2 separate regions of the Homo sapiens genome follow, and region 1 is linked to region 2. The links come from fine-mapping of genetic effects on gene expression. A gene starts in region 2. The other region holds a variant in brackets. All regions are shown on one strand. Distances are from middle to middle.

Evidence for each region.
Region 1: its variant is fine-mapped to the expression of CACNB1 in whole blood (INTERVAL, PIP 0.94).

Annotation. Positions count from the first base shown.
Region 1 is chr17:39,934,698-39,945,910 of GRCh38, forward strand. LRRC3C (leucine rich repeat containing 3C) reads left to right here. Exons shown (of 4, transcript NM_001195545.2): 2 at 1,105-1,197; 3 at 6,746-6,852; 4 at 9,236-10,302. The coding sequence starts at 6,827. The coding sequence ends at 10,037. Among named protein-coding and RNA genes, the nearest start is that of LRRC3C, 13 kb to the left of the region's middle. RefSeq lists enhancers at 3,630-3,749, 3,760-3,809. The variant T/TA (reference allele first, on the strand shown) is at 6,652.
Region 2 is chr17:39,191,108-39,202,320 of GRCh38, forward strand. CACNB1 (calcium voltage-gated channel auxiliary subunit beta 1) reads right to left here and starts at 6,562. Exons shown (of 14, transcript NM_000723.5): 1 at 6,305-6,562; 2 at 3,777-3,863; 3 at 367-486. The coding sequence starts at 6,388. RPL19 (ribosomal protein L19) reads left to right here and starts at 9,176. Exons shown (of 6, transcript NM_000981.4): 1 at 9,176-9,242; 2 at 10,106-10,212; 3 at 11,210-11,213. The coding sequence starts at 9,238. It overlaps LOC124903996 (a long non-coding RNA gene), which reads right to left and starts at 10,107. Exons shown (of 2, transcript XR_007065745.1): 1 at 9,798-10,107; 2 at 9,048-9,691. RefSeq lists an enhancer at 1,746-2,246 and silencers at 5,760-5,889, 6,320-6,719, 6,730-6,859.

The sequences.
Region 1 (11,213 bases), 740 kb after region 2:
TGGATCTCACGCAAGAAAGAATTCAGGGTGAGTCCACAGTGCAAAGTAAAAGCAAGTTTATTAAGTAAAGGAATAAAATAATGGCTACTCAACAGACAGAGCAGCCCCGAGGGCTGCTGGTTGCCCATTTTTATGGTTATTTCTTGATGATGTGCTAAACACGGGGTGGGTTATTCGTGCTCCCCTTTTTAGACCATTTAAGGTAACTTCCTGACGTTGCCATGATATTTGTAAACTGTCATGGCGCGGCTGAAAGTGTAGCAGTGAGGACCACCAGCGGTCACTCTCATTGCCATTTTGGTTTTGATGGGTTTTGGCCAGCTCCTTTACTGCAACCTGGTTTATCAGCAAGGTCTTTATGACCTGTATTTTATGCCGACCTCCTATCTCATCCTGTGACTTAGAATGCCTTAACTGTAGGGTTCAGCCTCATTTTACCCAGCTTCTATTTAAGACGGAGTTGCTCTGGTTCACACGCCTCTGACAGAACTGCACGTCCCAGACCACAGCCACACAGCTCTCCCTTGTTCTTGCCTCAGCCTCGTACCCTTTTCCATCTGATGGACTCCTATACACCCCTCAAGGCCTACCTCACCTGTCACCTTCTCGGTGCAGCCTTCCCCAGTGTCCAAGCAGAGTCCACTGCTTCATCCTCCAGGCTGCTGTGACCCTGGCGGATCCCTCAACCCAAGCCTTCCCTTAGGTGATCGGAGGGCTATATTTGTGCACACACCAGTCTTCCCTCATTGGCTGGGGGACATTTAGTTCTCAGCCAGGCGCGGTGGCTCTACACAAAAATACAAAAGTTAGCTGGGTGTGGTGGTGTGCGCCTGTAGTCCCAGCTACTTGGGAGGGTGAGGTGGGAAGACGGCTTGAACCCAGGAGGTTGAGGCTGCAAGTGAGCTGTGATCATGCCACTGTGGTCCAGCCTGGATGACAGAACGAGACCTGTCTCAAACAAAAGAAAAAAACAACTCTGAATCCCCAATGCCTAAGAGGCCCTGGTACACAGTACATGCTCAGATATGTGTTAAGTAAATGAGACAGTATCTCCAAGCATGGCAGCATGAAGTGTATGTATACACCCCTTGCTCTTTTCTACAGGGAACAACAATAGCAGAGGCCTTTGTTGCCCTCTCCGCGAAACTGCCCAGTAACCTGGCATTAGACGGGTCCCTGGCTGACCTGATAAAGAAGGTAGCCCTTCCTTATCTATCTTCTCTATCTATCTATCTACCTACCTATCTATCTATCTTTTTCCTTTCAGTTATCCCCCCATCCAGGCTGGACCTGGAGGTCTCCAACATCAGGGAGGGAAGGGGATGGAGGCCTGCTGAACTTCTTTCCCCTGTGGTCACATATTGGGGATATAGAGTTACCACCCTTGGAGGGAGGAGCTGTGACTCAGACTGCCGAGGGTGGGAGGCTAAGAGGCTCACTTTCCTGAGCCCTGAACTTGGGAGCCAGGGCCCTGCCATGCCTCAGTCTCTTCCCTGCCTGCCATTCTAGACACGTGGAGCATCAGGCTAGAAGGGATCTCAGAGACTGTGAGGGTCCAGAAAACAGAAAGGATGTGCCCCGTGGCATAAACATCTGCTGGTCTTGGGCCTAGCCCGAGAATTTTCCCAGGCACTTCACAGGCCAAGACAGAGCGTGAGACTCCCCGGTGATGGCTTTTCCAGACCCATGCCATGTGTCCCTCAGGTCTTTATCATCTCACACCTAGACCTTTGCCATAACTGGTTTTCCTGCCACCAATACATCCCCGACACAACCAACAGAGTGATCCAGACATCAAATCTAATTTTAAAACCTTTCAATCCGACCAGATGCGGTGGCTCACGCTTGTAATCCCAACACTTTGGGAAGTCGAGGAGGGTGGATCACTTGAACCCAGGAGTTTGAAACCAGCCTGCTCAATATGACCAAACCTCATCTCTACACAAAAATACAAAAAAAAAAAAAAAAAATATCTGGGCATGGTGGCATGCACCTCTGGTTGTAATCCCTTGGGAGGCTGAGGTGGAAGGATCTCCTGAGCCTGGGGAGGTTGAAGTTACCGTGAGCTGTGATGCCACCACTGCACTCCAGGCTGGGAGACAGAGTGGGACCCCGTCTCGAAAAAAATAAAAATAAAAATTTGGCCTGGCACAGCGGCTCACACCTGTAATCCCAGCGCTTTGGGAGGCTGAGGTTGGAGGATCACTTGCGGTCAGGAGTTCAAGACTAGCCTGGACAACATGGTAAAACCCCGTCTCTATTAAAAAAATAATAACATTAATAAAAAAAATTGGCTGGGCATGGTGGTGCACGCCTGTAATCCCAGCTACTCAGGAGGCTGAGGTAGGAGAATTGCTTGAACCCAGGAGGCAGAGATTGCAGTGAGCCGAGATCAAGCCACTGCACTCCAGCCTGGGTGACAGAGTGAGACTCTGTCTAAAAAAAATAAATAAATAGGCCGGGCGCAGTGGCTCACGCCTGTAATCCCAGCACCTTGGGAGGCCAAGGCAGGCAGATAACCTGAGGTCAGAAGTTCAAGCCCAGCTTGGTCAACATGGTGAAACCCCGTATCTACTGAAAATACAAAAATTATCCGGGTGTGGTGACGGGTGCCTGTAATCCCAGCTACTCCGGAGGCTGAGGCAGGAGAATCGCCTGAACCTGGGAGGCAGAGGTTTCAGTGAGCTGAGATCATGCCATTGCACTCCAGCCTGGGCAACAAGAGTGAAACTCCGTCTCAAAAAAATAAATAAATAAAATAATAAAAACTAAATAAAACCTTTTTAATCCATAAGCCACGGAATCAAGTCCCAATGCATCCATGGCGTGCAAGCCACAAGGATCTGCTCCCTTTTTACTTCTTTACCCCTGGCCTTTGCCACCACCCCCTCCATCCACGCAGTGATCTGGAAGCCAAGCCATTTCATGCTCCCTTGCTCTTGCACATTCTGCTTCTCCACCTGATTAACCCAGCCTTGAAAGCCCAGATCAAATGTCACTCCTTGGTGAAGCCTTCCTTGATTATACCCTGGAAAAGCTAGTGTACAGTTAAGGATGCTCTCAGCAGAAATCAACAGAAAACCCAAATAATGATTCTTACCCTAGGTTGCCATTAGAATCACCTGAGGAGCTTTTGAAAATTCCCATCACCTGGCCAGGCACGGTGGCTCACTCCTGTGATCCCAGCACTTTGGGAGGCTGAGGCAAGTGGATCACCTGAGGTCAAGAGTTCGAGACTGGCCTGGCCAACATGGAGAAAACCCGTCTCTACTAAAAATACAAAAATTAGCTGGGCATAGTGGCGTGTGCCTGTAATCCCAGCTTCTTGGGAGGCTGAGGCAGGAGAATCTCTTGAACCCAGGAGGCAGAGGCTACTGTGAGCCGAGATGGTGCCACTGCACTCCAGCCTGGGCGACAGAGTGAGACTCTGTCTCAACAAGAAAAAAAAATCTCCATTACCAGACACATGCCACATGGGTGTACCCAGGCATCAGCAGTTTTCAAAACTGCCTATATACCAGTGTGCAGCCAAGTTGAGAAGCACTGAAGTTAGGGGGTTTTCTTTCTCACGTATTGAGTCTAGAGGTGGCAGTTGCTGGTGTTGGTTGAGTAGCTCAGCGATTTCCAGGCCAACATCTCAGTAATACTCAACCCTCCCTTTATGCTTTGTTGTCTCATGGCCACGAGATGGCCTGAGTTGACCCTTTCATGTTCAAAGTAGGGGCCAGGCACGGTGGCTCACGCATGTAATCCCCAGCACTTTTTGCAGGGGGCCAAGGCAGGAGCCTTAGGAGTTTGAGACCAGCCTAGGCAACAAAGTGAGACCCTCATCTCTACAAAAAAAAAAAAAAAAATTGGCTGGTTGTGGTGGCACATGTCTGTGGTCCCAGCTACATAGAAGGCTGAGGCAGGAAGATTGCTTGAGTTTGGTAGGGGGTCAAGGCTGCAGTGAGCTGTGTTTGCATTCCAGCCCGGGCAACACAGTGAGACCCTCTCTCAAAAAAAAAGGCTGGTGCACTGGCTCACACCTGTAATCCCAGCACTTTCAGAGGCCAAGGAAGGTGGATCACCTGAGGTCAGGCGTTCAAGACCAGCCTGGCCAACATGGCGAAACCTCATCTCTGCTAAAAATACAAAAATTACCTGGGTGTGGTGATGCAGGCCTGTAATCCCAGCTACTCAGGAGGCTGAGGCAGGAGAATCACTTGAATCTGGGAAGTGAAGGTTGTAGTGAAGCGAGATCATGCAATTGCACTCCAGCCTGGGTGCACTCAGAGAGAGACTCCAGACTCTGCACTCCAGAGAGAGACTCCATCTCAAAGAAAAAAAAAAAAAAAAAGGTAGGGAGAGGAGCAGAGCCCAGCCCTATCCTCTCTTACCAGCAAATCAAAGACTGTCCCACAAACCTATTCTGCGGACTTCTGCTTAGATGTCATTGACCAGAATTGGGCCACCCTCAGCTGCAAAGGAGATTGAAGAAGTAGGCAACAGGATTTCTGATGGGCTGAGATCAATCAGGTTGAATCATCAAGGACTGAGTGCATTGCCACTCCCAAAGCCATGTGTGTTAATCTGGTAGTAGGAGGGAAGGGATGATTCTGCCATGTTATTAATACTTATTCTCTCTCTGTGCTTCACAGCTCCCTGTACAAACATCAATTAATGCAGGCAGCACATCAAAGCATTGTGGAGACATGTCTGTGCCTCCCTCCAGACCATCAATTCTCAACTCAGGCTGCTCGTTAGACATACCTGAGGAGCTTTCGAAAGAAACCAGTGCCTAGACCCCATGCACAGAGATTTTAATGTAATTGGTCCAGATGAAGCCCCAGCATAACTAATCTGTAAAAGCTCCCCAAGTGATTTGAATGTGCAGGGTGTTTTGAGAACCCTGCCATAGACCCAGCACCTTAAGAACCCTGTCTATGTCCCCTTCAACTAGCACATAAGGCTCACAGGAAATCCTCACTGAATGAATAAACAAATAAATGGATGGCAGAGAATTTCTGCTCCAATTCTGCAGCCCCTAGTGGGCAGTGTGCACTGTCCTAAGTGTGGTTCCTCCTTCCCCCCAGATCTCCCTCCTTCACCGAGTTTGCACTCAGACTCCCTTAATTAACCACATCTGCAGCTCCAGCTGGGCTCCTGCTTCTCCCACAGCTGCTGTGCTGGACACCCTAGTTCCACTCTTTTCCTGGAAGCTGCCCTAGTCTTAGAAGGAAATAACCCTCCATCAACAGCCAGGCTCAATTCTTGTGCCTCAGTTAAAGCCCCTGCCCAGTGTGAGAGAGGAACAGGGGGAAAGGGAGGATTGCTCAGCTTTCTGTCCCACATTCAGCTACAGTCCCGAAATGGACACCAAGTAGCCAGCAGCAGAGTGTCCGGCCCTCAGAGAAAAGGTTTGCTTGTTGCTTCTCCTGCCTAAGTGTAGAAAGTTATCTGATTCCTTAGACAAATGTGAGTCTGCAAAATTCCCCTGTTGACATCACAGGAATAAGTCTGTGGTGAGTACATCCTCAGAGATGATATCATCTGGCATCCTACCATCTGGTCTGGTCCCCATCATGCTTCTGAAACTGCTTGTTCAAAGGTAACCTACAGGGCCAGCCTCACAGGCATGCGGCTGACGAGGTCCCACAAGACCTCATGCCCTGTGCTCACAAGAGCTCTGCACTTGGTTTTACACTCTGCTGCTGTCGTCATCTTAAAATTCTTTTTTATTTTTATTTTTTAGAGACAGAGTCGCACTCTGTCACCCAGGCTAGAGTGCAGTGGTGCAATCACAGCTCACTGCAGCCTCCACTTCCCAGGCTCAAGCCATCCTCCTACCTCAGCCTCCCGAGTAGCTAGGACTAAAGTATGCACCACCATGGTCTGCTAATTTATTTTTCTTTTTGTAGAAAGTGCATTTGGACAATTTTTTTTTTTTTTCTGGAGAGACGAGGTTTCACTATGTTGCACAGGCCAGTCTCAAACTCATGAGGCTCCTTGGTCCTTGGCCTCCGAAAGTGCTGAGATTATAGGCATGAGCCACTGCACCCAGCCTTGAAATTCTTTTTTTTGAGACAGGGTCTTAATGCGTCACCTAGGCTGGAGTCAAGTGGCACGACCCAGGCTCGGTGAAACCTCTGCTTCCTGGGTTCAAGTGATTCTCGTGCCTCAGCCTCCCAAATAGCTGGGATTACAGGTGTGTGCCACCTCAGCCCAGTTAATTTTTTGTATTTTTAGTAGAGATGGTGTTTCGCCACATTGGCCAGGCTGGTCTCAAATTCCTGGCCTCAAGTGATCCACCCACCTCGGCCTCCCGAAGAGCTAGGATTACAGGCGTGAGCCACCATACCTGGCAAGGCCTTGAAATTCTTAAGTTTTCACCTGGGTGTGGTGGCTCACATCTGTAATCCCAGCACTTTGGGAGGCCGAAGTGGGTGGATCACTAGAGGTCGGGAGTTCAAGACCAGCCTGGCCAATATGGTGAAACCCTGTCTCTACTAAAAATACAAAAATTAGCCGGGTTTGGTCGGCAGGCACCTGTAGTCTCAGCTACTCGGGAGACTAAGGCAGGAGAGTCGTTTTAACCTGGGAGGCAGAGGTTGCAGTGAGCCAAGGTTGTGGCACTGCACTCCAGCCTGGGCCACAGAGTGAGACTTTATC[T/TA]AAAAAAAAAAAAAAAAAAAAAGGAAGAAATTCTTAACAGGTTTTTGAAACAAGGGACCCCCCCACACACACCCCATTTTTATTTTGCACTCAGCTCTACAATTCCGTGTCCAGTCCTGGTCACCCATAGTCTTCCAAAATCCAGCAAGAAAAATCCTTCTCAGAAAGGTCTCCAATGCGTATGACCTCATCTTCCTTCGTGTAAGTATATCCACCCCTAGTCTCTGTGACACCCCACTCTCCTGTTCTCTTCCACCTCTCTGACCTGGCAGGAGGGCTTCCAGGTTCCGTACAATACAATACCGTGGGTACCATCAGGCTCAACGTGCAAGGATGTAGGGTATTGGTATGTGTGGCAGAGAGGCACAGAGGTAAGAGCTGCTAGCAGGCAATGGAAAGTGGTTGGACAAGGAGTTAGAAAACTGGGCTCTGGTCTTTGGCCACTGACTCATTGTGTAACTCTGGTCACATTCTGGGCCTCAGTTTACCGGTCTGCAAACTAAGGAGGGATCAACTGGCTGGTCCCTTCCTTTGAGCTCTATCAATCATTGAGGCTCTGAATCCCAGCACCGAACTGGAGATAGTGTGGGTAGGATGGTGCCATAGGAGGCACCATGTGGTTGGACTTGAGGGTCAAGGGAGTTGCAGGGGATAAGCCACCATGGGCTAAGGAATGAGATGGGTCATCCACATGGATCACATCTATGACCCTTTGTCACCTCTGCCCCTGCACAGCATACGAGAGGAGGTGAAGGGGAAAAGCCTGGCGTGGGTAATGAAATCATGGAGGAAGACCATGATGTGTTCTGGAAGTCAGTAATCCTAACAACTAGCCTTTGCACAGCACTTCACAAAGTACCTTCACATCCACTCAACCCTGGCGGGTCCTCCCAACCCTGCAGCAGTGTCAGGTGACATGCCCAGGTCACACACTAATCTCATCTTCTGCCTTGAAATCCTTCCTTCCCACTACCCAGTGAACATTAGGAGAGGGTGGTATCACGGAGTGGCGTGGCCTGCAAATGATGCCTGGGATAGGGACACCCTGGGGGAACAAGTCATCCAAGCCATCTTTGGTGCCCAGGCCTGAGGGAGAGTTCAAAGTGCCAACCTGAGAGTCCAGGGCTCTAGCAAACTGAGAGAACCTGAGTCAGTTCTCATCCAGATCATAAAATCAGCAGGAAAACTCAGAGATGACCACATCAGGCTTCAGGTGCCTTAAAGAACTCCTTCCAACTCCTAGAGAAGCAATCAATCTACCACGCAGAGAACAAACTGAAATTGAACCACAGCACCCCTGGCAGGCAGGAGGTCTGGGCACTGCGAGGAGCCAGGAAATGAGGAACCCTGGACAGACATGTTTTCCAAGGAAAGACTAGGGGAAGTTTGCTCACCGTGGAAGAAGGGGCCACCGAGCATGGAAGAATGTGCCATGGCGTGAAAGAATGGCAGAAGGGAGTAGGGAGAGGAATGGAGTTGGGGGAATACAGGTTGCTGGAGACACTGGATGTGAGATGGGGCCCACCCAGTTCTGCCCGCCAGGCCTGCCAAGCAGGGATCCTTCTGCCCAGCCAGGTTCTGGGTAAGGAAGAGGAGTTCTGGGAAGCAGTTTCAGCCTTGGGGAGTGAGGGAAGATGGCAGCATCAAGGCCTTGGGAGGGGAGCCTGGTGCAGGGAATGGAATTGGGTCCTGGTCTCCCCACAACAGAGTTCATCAGGGTCCAGGATCTGCCCTCTCTTGGCATTGCCTGGCCACACCATGGCTCAGGTATCCGACACCTGGGCCCAGAGTCACATGCCAGGAAACCCAACACTCTTGGGTCCCAGCCCCCAACTTCCAGCAGCTACGAGCAAACAGGGCTTCTGGAGGAGGAAGCGGGTCTCCAGAGCCCAGCAGCAGGGAGCCTACGTCCAGGGACAGGGCATCTGCACTGGAGAAGGCTCTGCCACCAACAGGGGTGAGAGGAATGGAGGAGGACGGGGAGGAGGAGGGAGGAAGTACAGAGCAGAGAGGACAGAGCTGGGGCAGGCAGAGGGGTGGATGCTCCCGGAAAAGGGGTAGATGGGCATAGAAGGTGGGGCCAGAGGTCTATTTTACCTAGTCACCTGGCCTAGCTGGATGCCCTGACACCCTGTCGCTCATCCGTCCCCTTGTCTCCATCACGCGAGTGCCAACCAGACCCTCTGGTGCCTACCTAGCCCACTTGGCAGCCACCCAGGTAGGTAGGGGAAGAAGACTTTATTCCAATGAGAGAAATCAACACATGGACAGAGGCAGAAACTTAGAAACCCCCAGACCCAGAATGACCAACAAGGCCTCACAGATTAACCTTCTAGAATCAACAGACCCTAAAAGAGTTTCAAGTGCAAGAGACCCTTTACCCAAAAGACCCTATTGAGGAGACTTAAATCAAGAGAGACCCCAATAAGGAAGTGAAAAAGTCACCCAGGCTTGAGAGAAGCCCCCAGAGAAGAGGCCCCAGCCCAAAAAGACTCCCCAGAGGGACCTCGGGAGGAGAAAGCTGGCAGTGGGGCATGCGATTCTCTTGACTCACTCCTCCTTTATGTGGCCTTTCCTTCCCCAGATCCTACTGCACTCCAGGACTATGCCAATTTATGGCCATGCTCCCAACAGCAGGTCACCTCCTGCCCCTCCTGCTGGTGATAGGCACAGGGGGTACTGTGCCCAGCCCCCAGGTGCCTCCCCGGGGCTGTTATGTGGCAAAGGAAGCAGGTGAACGGACGTTCCGCTGCAGCCAGGCAGGCCTCAGTGCTGTGCCCTCCGGCATCCCCAATGACACCCGCAAGCTCTACCTGGATGCCAACCAGCTGGCATCGGTGCCTGCTGGTGCCTTCCAGCACCTGCCTGTCCTGGAGGAGTTGGATCTGTCCCATAATGCCCTTGCCCACCTCTCAGGGGCGGCTTTCCAGGGCCTGGAGGGCACATTGCGCCACCTCGACCTCTCTGCCAACCAGCTGGCCTCAGTGCCCGTGGAGGCCTTTGTGGGGCTACAGATCCAAGTGAACCTATCCGCAAACCCATGGCACTGTGACTGCGCCCTCCAGGAAGTGCTCCGGCAGGTGAGGCTGGTGCCGGGCACTGGGACAGGCATCGTGTGTGGCTCAGGAGCCCGACCGGACCTCGTGGGGCAGGAGTTCCTGCTGCTGGCAGGGGAGGAAGAGCTGTGTGGGTCGGGGTGGGGTGGGGCCCGGAGGAGCACCGATGTGGCCCTGCTGGTCACCATGGGGGGCTGGCTGACACTCATGGTGGCTTATCTGGTGCATTATGTGTGGCAGAACCGAGATGAGACCAGGCGCTCCCTCAAGCGGGCCCCAGTGCTGCCCGTGCGTTCCGAGGACTCCTCCATCCTCAGCACAGTGGTCTGATGACCCAGGATGCTCCTCCAGCCACACCCCACACTCCTGCCCCTATGCCCTCTCCTTTGCTCTGACCCCCTCTGCCTCCTGTGCAGCTTCACCCCTGCCCCCAAGCCCATCCCACCCCTCCCTCCTTTATTCCCCCTAAATACCTGTGCTGGTTCTCTCTCTCTCTCTCTGTGTCGTCTTAACCAACACCATCTTTGGTGCCTGGAGTTTTTTGGTGCCTACTCTGTGCCTGGATTGTGCTAGACTCAGAAAACCCATAACAGAGAATGACAGCAGGTGGGGTGGGAGCAAGGGAGGAGGGGCTGTGGGGGGGCAGGTTGAGGAGGGAGCCTGCACCTGGCCCAGGGCGATTTCAAAGGCTTCGCTGTAGGATGTTTGAACTGATTCTTTTTTTTTTGAGATGGAGTCTCACTGTGTCAGCAGACTGGAGTGCAGTGGCAGGATCTCCGCTCACTGCAACCTCTGCCTCCCAGGTTCAAGTGATTCTCCTGCCTCAGCCTCCTGAGTAGCTGGGACTACAGGCGCGCGCCACCACGCCCAGCTAATTTTTGTATTTTTTAGTAGAGTTGGGGTTTCACCATGTTGGCCAGGATGGTCTTGATCTCTTGACCTCGTGATCTGCCCGCCTTGGCCTCCCAAAGTGCTAGGATTACAGGCGTGAGCGCGCCAGGCCCGAACTGACTCAGGTGGGTGGATCACCCAAGGCAGCACGCAACGTGAACCCCTTGGGCGATTACAGGCCCACACAGCCCGTCCACCACCAGCTTCTTCCTGCCCTACAGAGCTGAGGCCTGGAGTGGCAGAGAAAGCCAAGGGTACCCTGAGGGAGCCCCCAGCTGAGGGGGAGTGAAGCCCCACCCTTTCCTGAATTGGGCTCACAAACAGAGGCTTCGAGAGCGCAACTCTAAGACTGAGGTCTCCTACAGAGTGAGGGGCATCAAAGCGAGAGGCAACCCGGGGAGCTTATTCCAAAGGGAGGGACTGCCTCCCCCATTGGACTAAAGGGAGTTCAAACTGCTAGAAATGATTTTGCCTTAGGTCTCTGAGAATCTGCCATCATCAACCTCTCTTACCTCCAAGGAACCCATCTCTACTAAAAATACAAAAAATCAGCCGGGCGTGGTGGCAGGCACCTGTAATCCCAGCTACTCATGAGGCTGAGGCAGGAGAATCACT
Region 2 (11,213 bases):
GCAGGAGAATGGCGTGAACCCGGGAGGCGGAGCTTGCAGTGAGCCGAGATCATGCCACTGCACTCCAGCCTGGGTGACAGAGCAAGACTGCAACTCAAAAAACAAAAAAAAGAAATTTTTAGCACTTATCAAGCCCTTATTATGTGTGGAAACAGTATAATAACACGCACTTATTATACTTATTATACTGTATAAGCAGGCAGGTATTATAGCCCACATTGTGCAGGTGAAGGACAGAGGAGCAAGGTTCAGGGGTACTAGGAAGTGGCTGGGTCAAGACTTGGCCCTGGTTCTGTCTGGGCTCTCTCTACAGCCCAGGACTGGGGGAAATCATGCCAGCACAGCCCCTCCCCACATCTTTCTCACCTTGGCCTTCTCGAGCTGCGCTAATGCCTGGCGCTCTGCTTCCTTCCTTAAGGCTTCCCGGTCCTCCTCCAGAGATACATCAGAGTCTGATGGACGGCTGGTGTAGGACTCCGCTGAGCCCTGAAAATAGAGAGAGCCAGATCAGGGCCATTGCTGCCCCTCCCAGCTCCTGGGCCTGGGAAGGCATGGAGGTGCCACCCATCATGGATGCCTCGAGCCCCAGCCAGCCCAGCATGACACCACAAGGGCTAAGACAAGGTGGTATTAGGTGGAAGGGACCAGGAGCTGAGATTTCTCAGGCCCCTGGGGAAAGTGTGGCCCTAGTGAGGGTGACAGCAGCAAGCAGGAGATGAAGGCAGGCCCAAGGACAGCTGCTTGGGGCCCAGGGAGGGGTGGGAACCTGATAGGGGCACAAGGCAAGGGAGGAATGCCAGGGACGAGTCTCTACTCCCACTGCTCCTTCCCTCCCCTGCCCCCAGCACCCGCTGAGATAGACTCAGCTGAGGTCCAGTGGCATCCATTCCAGGGACTGCAGCCACCAGCTTCGGCCTGAGCTCTCTGCACTATCAGCCGTGGACGGCCTGCTCCGCAGGATGGGGCCACCACAGATTTTGCCAGCTTCTGTTCAAGGGTAGAGGGAGACAGACTCCTACCTCCCCTGCTCCTCTTAACTGGTACTGCCAGAATCAAACTTCACTACTTACAGCCCCAGTCCTCAGGCTCTCCTAGGACACAAGAGAACCCAAGAGTTCCAGGCTGGTACAGACCGAAGAGGCAAGTTAAGAGCAGGATATGGGACAGGGCTTTCCCTGAAATGAGGGCTGCTGGGTGCCAGACAGCTGGCTTTGACCACAATGACCAACCCAGAGCACAAGGGACTCCTTTAGGGATGCACACATATGTGTAAGACACATGTTGCCCGTACAGACCTGGTAGTGGGAATGCACGTGCTTCTTCATGTGTGTGTGTGGATGTGCAAGTACAAGTGTGTGGAGGAGGGTGTGCTCTATAGTTGGCTGCATATGACTGTGTGTGTACAGCCACATGTGAGTGTACTGGGGGGGAGCTCCCAGACATCTGTGACCCTGAGGTTGGGGGACATGTGAGGGCAGGAGGCAAGAGGTGTGGATTTGTGTGACTATGCAGGGGTGGTGTTGGACAAGGCATAGGAGGTTATGTGGCAAAAGAGGAGGACTGCAGGGATGTAGGGGTTCTTTCCTGAGGGCAGAAAAGGGTCACTTGGCCAGGAAGGTCCATAAGTTTGGCATGGAGGGGACCTGGGAAAGACAGAAACAAAGTCCCACCTCTCCCCAGGGGCCTCAGGTCATTAGCTGGTGCAGCTGCCCATCTCTTTCCCAGACAAATAATGAAAATGGGAGACCCGCGGAGGAAGGGTTGGGGTGGAGCGGGGGTCACTAACAGAAGTGGGGAAAGAGGCATGAAGGAGAGAAGGAGAGAAAACCAGCGTAGCTCCCCCTCTCCCCCCTGATGGGAGCACGCAGAGTCAAAGAGCCAGGGAAACAGACAGGGAGACAGACTAGCAGAGAGGCACTCACCGACCCCAACACACACGCGGGCATGCGCGTGCACACACACACTCACCAACCCCAACACAAATGCAGGCATACGCGCGCACACACTCACTGACCCCAACACACATGCAGGCACGCGCACGTGTACACATACACACACAGTTACATGCACACACACAGACACACATGCAGACGCACATGTGCGGGCAGACACACACACATATGCAGACACACAGGTGCACACAGACACACATGTAGGCATGCGCACACATACACACACATATGCAGACACATGTACGCGCATACACACGCACACATCAGAAATGGCAGAAGACAGGAAACAGTGAGGAGGCATGGAGACACGCTGGAGTAAAGGCTGCCCTCCGTCAGCTTTCCTGAGAGGCTGTTCTACCCGCTGCCACCCCACTCCATCCCCAGCTCACCACCACCACGGTCCGGCTGGGCGCCTCCATCCCGGCACCCTCAGTGCCTGGCCCTGCTGGCCTAGGGGGTGGCCCAAACTGCCCGTTCCCTTGGGGGCTCGGGTTACAAGCAGAGTTGCTACATGTGCAGACTGCTAGGGTATATTTAGCTCAGAGATGTGGCAAGGACTGCCCCCCTCCACCACTCCCCACCACCTACCGGGGATCAGAGCTGGGGAGCTAAAAGGAGGAAGAATTGGAGGCTGGGGTCTGACTCCCTGGGTTGGCAAACACTGAAGGAGCCAAGGTCCTTTTCTGCCAAGAGGGGCAATAAAAGCACAGCGTCATTCTTCCCAGCCCTGGCCATGTCCTGCAACAGGAGGGATGAGGGGGTGATTGAAGAAAGGACTTCCTGTCTGTTCCTATACTTAGAAAAGGCTAGAATGAAGCCTCCCCTTCCTGAACCTCCCAAGTCAGACTGAGGCTCACATGTGCCAAGTGCTGTAGAGACAGAAGAAACGGAAAGAAGGGCCTCACTCTAATTAGTGGTGGATCTGCCTGGCATCACCCTCGCTCCTGGCCCAAGGTGGAAGGGAGGGGCTCATCTCCAGAGGACCCCTCCTCTGTGCTGTCTTCTGCCCTCAAATGCCCTGCCCATTTCCTCTTCAATACACGCCTTTTCCTTGTCTAATCCCAAGCCCCTCTCGCCTTTTTTGGGTACCAGGCTTTGGTGAGATGCTAAGTAGTCATAGCAACCACATGCCTCTCTCAGTCCCTCACCCTGAGCCTAAGATGGCCCAGGGTTGACAGATGAGAGCAGCCGCTTACTGACTGAGCACAGAAGACCCCAGAAAGCTATTCTCAGTTACACCCTTTCAGGCAGGGGTGCTGGGCTATCATCTTCTCTATTATAAAATCAACAGCCTCATGCCTCAACCACCCCCACCCCCGTCACCATCACCCTTTCTCTGTGCTTCTTAGACAGTCATGTCTCGAGGTGAGGAGCGTGTTTCCCTGGCCAGGACCTCACCAGGACTACAGGGACCCAAACATCCTTGCTCTGCTTTTCCTAGGACCTGCCTCCACCCAACCCTGTCACAGATTCTGGGGGAGGACATGGAAGCAGACAGCCGGCAGGGGGAGTGGGTGACAGCCCGAAGCAAGCTGGAGGGAGGCAGGCCAGGCTGTCCCTGAATGAGATGACGCAGGCCAGCAGGCAGCAGGGGAGGGTGCCTGGTGCTGGGGGAGGGGCCGGGCAGGGGCGGGGGCTGAGCGAGTGGGTGCCGCTGACAGCACATCCAGAAGAGGTCATGGGGTGTCAGGGTGATGGGGTGGCTCCAGGCAGGTGACAAATGGCACAGGGAAGGGTGCCTGGACAATACCGCAGACCTGGCTCACCAATGCTGGTCTCCACCAACCAGCCACCTCCCTCCTCTCCGCCCAGCCTCCCCATTACCTGGCGGACAAAGCTGTTGGATGTGGTATCCGAGGACGTGCTCCCATCTGACCGTTTGAATCGCCCTTTCCTCTTGCTGTATTTGCCCTGAAGAGGCCAGGAAAGGAACAAGAGTAGAATCAGAAGGGCCCTTTCCCAACCCTCATCTTGCCAGCCCCAGAGCTACAGCCAAGCTTGGGAACAGCACTCCCAGCCCCACCTCCACCCCCCTGCACATTCCTCCTGAGGTGGTACGACCCAAGGGGAGGGAGGGTCTCCCATCCTCACGGAGAGGGCCCAGAGCACAGCCAGGAGTGGGGACCAGTGCAAGAGAGCCCCAGAAGACCCACACGGAAACCACCAAACCAAGCCAGAGAGGCTGGGAAGGGGGGAGGCGCGGAGAAGCTGGAGGCTCATTAGGCAGCAGAGCTAATTAAGATGCTGGGCAGGCTGCAGAGGCCTCCGAGGAAGGGAGAGGCAGCCGGCAGTGCTGGGTGTTGGGTGGGGAGAGCGGGAAAGTCACCCCCACTCCCCCTCCGCAGGAGCAGAGCAGGGCTGTTTGTGTTGGTGGCCCCCAGAGAGGAGGAACTGCCAACCCAGGGCCCAGCCTGGCTTCTCCCCTGTGCCCAACTCTTCCCTTCGCTATTCACAGAGTAGGGAGGGGATGACAGCTCTCTTGGAGACTCAGAGCCAGATTTCTGGGGAGGGAGTAGGGGCATGGAACTGTATTTGGAGAGTAAACATCCAGCCTGATCCCTGGCACCATGGGGGCAAATTTTGCTCCCCACTCTCATCCCTTGCCCAGACAGGACTTTTTCTCAGCTCCCTCTCTCACAATCACAGTAGCTACAATCCTCCCCAAGGGGGCAAGAGGGATCAAGCTTCTACCCTGTGGCCCCCAGCTGCCACTGCCCATGCCCCATGCCCATGGTACCCATCAGGCTACGTCAATCTAAATGTCCCTCGGCCCCGCACCACATGAGCCTAGGACACAGCCCCACAGATCTCTAGGGGGTAAGCTGGCTCAGTCTCAGAGACCGGGTGGAGGAAATACCGCCTGACCATTCAGGAAGCCACACGTTCAGGTTAAGGGCGTCAGGTATTTCCAGTCCTCTTGTAAGAAGAGCTGCTTCTGGCCCTCCCCAGCTTGTACCCACACACACTTGGCCTCAGCCCAGTTCAGAATGGGGAGAGTGAGTGAGGGCTCAGACTTCCAAGTCCCCGCCCTTGGTCTCCATCCTAGACTTTCTTTGGCCAAAGAACCTGGAGGGGCCATGACCAGACTGGGGGCTTTGGCTGCTGGGATCAGGGTACAAGAAAGAGGATGGAAAATGGGAGAGGAGGGCCCCTGGGGACCTTTCCAAGATCCTCCCCTCCCCGCCCTTCTCTCAAACCAGACATATACCCCAACTCAAGTTGTGATGCTCCCTACAAACCTAGGAGGATCACCCAGTGAATCCCAGACACCACCCTCCCCCACCACTGCCAGGCTGGGCAAAGGGAGTGGCACTCAGAGGGACAGGGGACAGCTGAAAGGAAGGCCCCAGTCAGCTGCCTCCCAGGCTCAAAGGGGCCTGGGGTGGAGGAAGGTATTTTTAGGTCTGACTTGACCCCTCTACATACCCATCAGTCACATTATCATGGTGGTTACAGCTGGTGGCCACAGTAACAGAAGAGTTAATGCTATCCTTGGAGAAGGACACTCCCAAAGAAATCCCCTGGCGCGACCATCCCAGAGCCTGCTGGTCACCCCATGAGAACCCACCGCGCCCAAGAATGCCACTTCCTGGGAGTAACCAGGGGTGTAGGAAAAGTGTGCGGGTGGGGATGGAGAAGTAGACCCCTCCCCCAGGTAAAACAGCTTCCCCCCCTCCTATGAGTTGGCATCCATCCAACTTTCCAAACTTTGGAGGCGTTTTTGGGGCGGGGGTGGGGGTGGGGTAAGTCAACGTGGGTGTGGGGGGAGGGGAGCAGGTCCGACATAGAGATGGAGCCCAGGTGGCTGGGAGGGGACCTCGACCGGGGTTGGCTCTTTCCCCACCCTCGAGAACCAGTGTCTGCGGCTTTGAAGGCCTGTTGGCATTTGGCACCGCCCTCTGACCATCGCCTCGGCCACCTCCTCGTGCCACCCCCGCCCCACCCACACCCGCCTGGCGCCCCCGAGCGTGCTCTGCGTCGCCCCCCTTGCCTGGCTCGCTTTCTAGCCTCTTTCAACCTCCCCTTCTCAAGGCCCAGATCCCCCTCCACCAGCACCCCCACGCTCAGCCCACTGAAGCTGGTGCCCAAGCGGCAGGAACCTTGACGCGGGGGAGATAAGGAGGCGAGGGTGACAGGCAGCCCACCCGCCCCCTCCCCGCTCCGCAGCATCGCCACCCAGCCCCAGGCCCAGCGCCCATCAATCACAACCTGCAAGGATGGGGGGCGCGCAGGCATCCCTCTCTCCTCCGCGCCCGGCATATAACCCCTTCCTCTCCCGCGCCTCTCGAGCCGACCTTAACACGGTCCGCGGGAGCGACCCCCTCCCGTTGGGCCGGGCCACCACGCCTCACCTGCGGGCTGGGGTCGAAGACCTCCATGGGGATCTCCTGGGAGGGTGGGTAAGGGCCCCGGGACATGCTGGTCTTCTGGACCATGGAGAGGAGCCTCCCCTCCCGCCGCCGGCCCGGCCCAGCCGGGCTCCCTCAGCGCATGGGAGAGGCCGTGGGAGCCGAAAGCAGCGCGGCGCAGCCAGCACCCGGTCCAGCCACCCAGCTCGGCCTTCGGCTGCCTCCTTCCTGCCTTCCCTCGCTCCTCCCGCTCTCTCCACTGCCGCCGCCGCCTCCCCCGTAGGCTCAGCATCTCCCCGCGCCCCTCCCTCGCTCCCTCCCTCCGCCCGCCCGGCCCCGCCCCTCGCAGCCCCTCCGCCGGCTCGGCGCACACAATGGGCGTGCGGCAGCAGGGAGGCAAGCCCCTCTCGGCTCTAGGTGGCCGCAGGTGGGCCTCTGACTGGCCGTGGGGTGCAGGCGGCCCGCTGGGGCGGGAAGGCAGAAACTAGGCGTGGAACTTGGGGGAGGGGTGGGGGGGCGGTCTACCAGTGGATGCCGAGCGCTGATGGGGATTGGCATGGCTGGCACCACCCCCCTTTTGTCCCAAACCTCTCTTCCTGCGGGTCCCCCCAACCCACTCCTGTTTGGACCACCGGAACTTCCCGGTCCCGGTGATCCTGGGACCTGGCTTTAACTCCTTTCTCCCCAGTGTGGGGCCCAGGCTGCCTCAAACCAAACAGAAAAGCCTCTCCCTCCAACATGGCTCTGGGGCTGCCGGTGGGAGGCTGAGGCTGAGATGGGGAGGGTGTCCAATAGAGACAGCAAAATAAATCCCAGGGGTCCAGGAGTTCTGCCCTAATCAGTCACTAGGATACACCGCCCCCCCAACCCCTGTTCTTCCAAAAGGCCAGGAATGGGGCTGGGTGAGGTCCCTGCTCTTGGATGAGAAAAGAGGAAGAAATATGGAGCTGAGAGAGGAGAAGCTGGTAAAATCAGATCTCATGACCTTTGACCTAGAATTGCGCCACCTTTACCCCTGATTTAGGGAGAAACATCCAAGATCTGGATGCCACCCACCATGACTGGTGGAGAGAAGAGGAATAGGAGATTCTGGGCAATAGACTCTGGCGCCAATTTGGCTCAGGCTGTTTCTGGTTGTATAGCCCCGGACAAATCACCTCTCTGAGCATCAGTTTCCTCCTCTCCTATAAAATGGGGTTGCTGGTACTGTGGAGTCTGTGTCACCTGGTATTATTGGGAGGATGAGGGAGAATTAAATGAATTGCTGGGGTGTTTGGAGAAGCTGTAAGTTTCAATGAAGGGGTCACTCATGACAGGAGGACCCATTCCCTTCCTACTCCACCCCTTCTCCTGCTCCACAGAAAGGAGAGATGGAGAAGACCCTCTCCAGGTCAAGTGACCTTACAATAAGGCCACCACCTTGCTGTGTTCCGCAGGACAGGAGACTATGGGACTCCTCCTCCTCACCCAACTCTAATAGCAAGTGAATGGTCAGTCTGTCATTCCTCTGATCACAACACCTTGGGGAAGGCGGAGCAGTGAGTGAAGATGAAGCCCATTAGAAACGTTCCAGGAGAGTTCCAACCCTGAGCAGGGTTTCCACCTGCCCCTTGGAGACAAGAAAGGCTGGCATAACCGCAAAAGTATGGGCTTTGCAATCAGAAATATCTGTGTTCTGAATCTGTTACCTTAGCTGTAAAATGAGGGCAACGCTAATCGTGTTGTTGTGAGGAAGTAGCATAAATGTTGCTTCCCTTTCTCTCTCTTCTACTTTCTCAGCCAGGAAAGTTGAGATGAAACGGATAGGGTGATCAGCAGGAACCAATCATGAGTTGGAGCCTCAATTCAGATGTAGACTTCTTAAACCCCAGAATGTTCTTCTTGGATTTTTACATTGGGTGTTCCAGATCAGAAGAAAAGGACTGCTTTTTTTTTTTTTTTGAGACGGAGTCTCACTCTGTTGCCCAGGCTGGAGTGCAGTGGCGCAATCTCGGCTCACTGCAACCTCCGCCTCCTGGGTTCAAGCGATTCTCCTGCCTCAGCCTCCCCAGTAGCTGGAATTACAAGCACGCGCCGCTACGCCCGGCTAATTTTTGTATTTTTAGTGGAGACAGGGTTTCACCATGTTGGCCAGGCTGGTCTCGAACTCCTGACCTCAAGTGATCCGCCTGCCTTGGCCTCCCAAAGTGCTGGGATTACAGGCATGAGCCATCGAGCCCAACCCAATTTTTTTTTTTTTTAATTTTACTTTCTGCAATCATTCATCCATTCAGCCAGTGCGGTATTTCTGAGGTGTGTTCGATCGCGGATCCATGCCTGCCGCAGTACAGTTGTGAGCCAAATGAGACTGAGACTAGTTCCCGCCCTCCAAGAGCTTGCAAGACCCGCAGTGGCGTAAAAACACTAACATCTTTTAGTGATCGATTCTGCACTCCAGGGGTTTTCAATCTACTACAAGAGTGAATAAGAGTTCGCCTTTGTCTGATATCTGTTGTCATTCTCTCTCGCTTCTTTAACTGATTTTTTCTCAGCTAATAAAACATCCACCCACAACCCCCCGAACGCCCGCAAACACCAGGCCACTCTAGCAAAACCTCTCTCACTCCGCCTGCGCAATCCAGCTGACTTCCGGTTACAGATAACCACGTGATTGGGAACCCTTGCTGCGCATGTCTAGTAGGAAGTCGGACTATACCACTTTCCCTACGGAAGGGGTACTTTTTTATGTTTTTAAGTTTAAAACCGATTTCTGATATTTGACTTTTATCATTTCAGGCCTATATGGAGGCTATGAGTGAGTTTAGTGTGGCAGAAGATGAAAGAACCGGACAGGAATACGGACGAAATTGGAGCAGGGTTTGGGCTCTCCCCTTCGCAGATAATGGGAGGAGCCGGGCCCGAGCGAGCTCTTTCCTTTCGCTGCTGCGGCCGCAGCCATGAGGTGAGGGCGAGCTGGTCTCCATCAGGCGCTGACGCGTGTCGACAAGGGACTGTCGGTCTTGGGACCGCAGCTGGGGTTGGGGGAGATGAAATGGAGGCCGCCCTAAAGCGGCCGGTCCCGGGGTTTGGGGTAGGCCGGAGCACTTTCGTCCCGGGCCTCCGGAGTGAGGGGGGGCGGGGAGCGTCGCAGCAACTGAGACCAGGAAAAGTCTGCCCCGGCTGGTGCCGCACCGCACACGTGTCCGGTCGACCCACGCGAGCAGAGCAAACGGAGCGAACAAGACCAAGCCGTGGGCCCTTTCTTGCTTGGCACACCCGGAGCGGAGCCGATCTCTGCTTTCACGTGATGTAGGGCAAGCCTAGTGTAGGCCCCAGGCCTCCGACTGCCGAGAGAGGTGATCTCTAACTCTTGACTCCATTCACTCCTTTGGCCTCTCATAAAGGAAATCTCTGCGAATAGCCGAACGAGGCTTGTTACTGTGATAAAACAGGGAAATAAGCCCAGAAAACAGAGTAACTTGCCTGCATTCCTAGACTAGAAATCAGGTCTACTCACCTCGAATATTCTTTAAACGCTGAGTACCAGAAATGGCATAACCCCCCTATTCAATCCAATAAGTCCTTGGCTTGACTTTCCAGAGGAGAAATGCGAACATGAGGCTCCGAGAGGTGAAGGCATAGCGTGGGTTTTGAAGTCTTAAACCCAAGGGGGCCAGCTGCATAGCCCAGAGCCTTAAAGATGATTTAGGGAAGAGTCTTATTTCGCGGCTGTGGTGTGGGTCACAAAGGGCAGGTCTTGATGGGGACGTTCATTCTTGCCCAGGATTGGCTTTCAGAGTCTAATCATGTTTTCTGTGTGTCTAGTATGCTCAGGCTTCAGAAGAGGCTCGCCTCTAGTGTCCTCCGCTGTGGCAAGAAGAAGGTCTGGTTAGACCCCAATGAGACCAATGAAATCGCCAATGCCAACTCCCGTGAGTACCTGGGATCTGTCTCTTCACCCTACTTCCTTCTTTTCTCCTGCGTCAGATTAATGATAACACAATTGTGTTGACTTTTTTTTTTTTTTTTAGACAGTCTTGCTCTGTTGTCCAGGCTGGAGTGTAGTGGTGCCATCTGATCATTGCAACCCCTGCTCCCAGGCTCAAGTGATTCTCCCACCTCAGCCTCCTGAGTAGCTGGGATTAGAGGTGTGCACCACCACACCCAGCTAATTTACTCTTTATATTTTATTTTATTTTTTTTGGGACAGAGTCTCACTTTGTCACCCAGACTGGAGTGCAGTGGTAGGATCTCAGCTCACCGCAACCTCTGCCTCCCAGGTTCAAGCGATTCTCCTTCCTCAGCCTCCCAAGTAGCTGGGACTAAGGCACGTGCCACCACACCCAGCTAATTTTTGTATCTTTAGTAGAGATGGGGTTTCATCATGTTGGTCAGGCTGGTCTCAAACTCCTGACCTCAGGTCATCCATCCACCTCAGCCTCCCAGAGTGCTGGGATTATCGACGTGAGCCACCACACCTAGCCTGGGTTGACTTGTTACAAACCTAGGAAAGTTCATTCAGAGTGTCTATAAAATGGAGGAGTCATTGTATCAGGCTTGTTCTTTTGAGTGTGCTTTCATATATTTAAAATGTAGAAATGGCCAGGCATGGTGGCAGGCATCTTTAATCCCAGCTACTTGGTAAGCTGAGGCAGGAGGATCATGAGCCCAGAAATTCAAGACCGGCCTGGGCAACATAGGGAGACTGTCTCAAAGACAAAGGGTATTTCTCACAACCTCTGTTTGTGAAGGAAAAAGAAAAGATAGAGGTTTTTTGGGTTTTTGAAGGCAAGAAATAAGTTCCAGTGTTTCCATCCTTTTTGAGACCGTGGGGCCAAGAATGTGAGCAGTGTCTCTGGCCTGGCCTATTTGGACTCTGTGATGTGCTTGGGCCCCAGTTGACTGACCAGGTGCATTATGCTTTCCCAGGTCA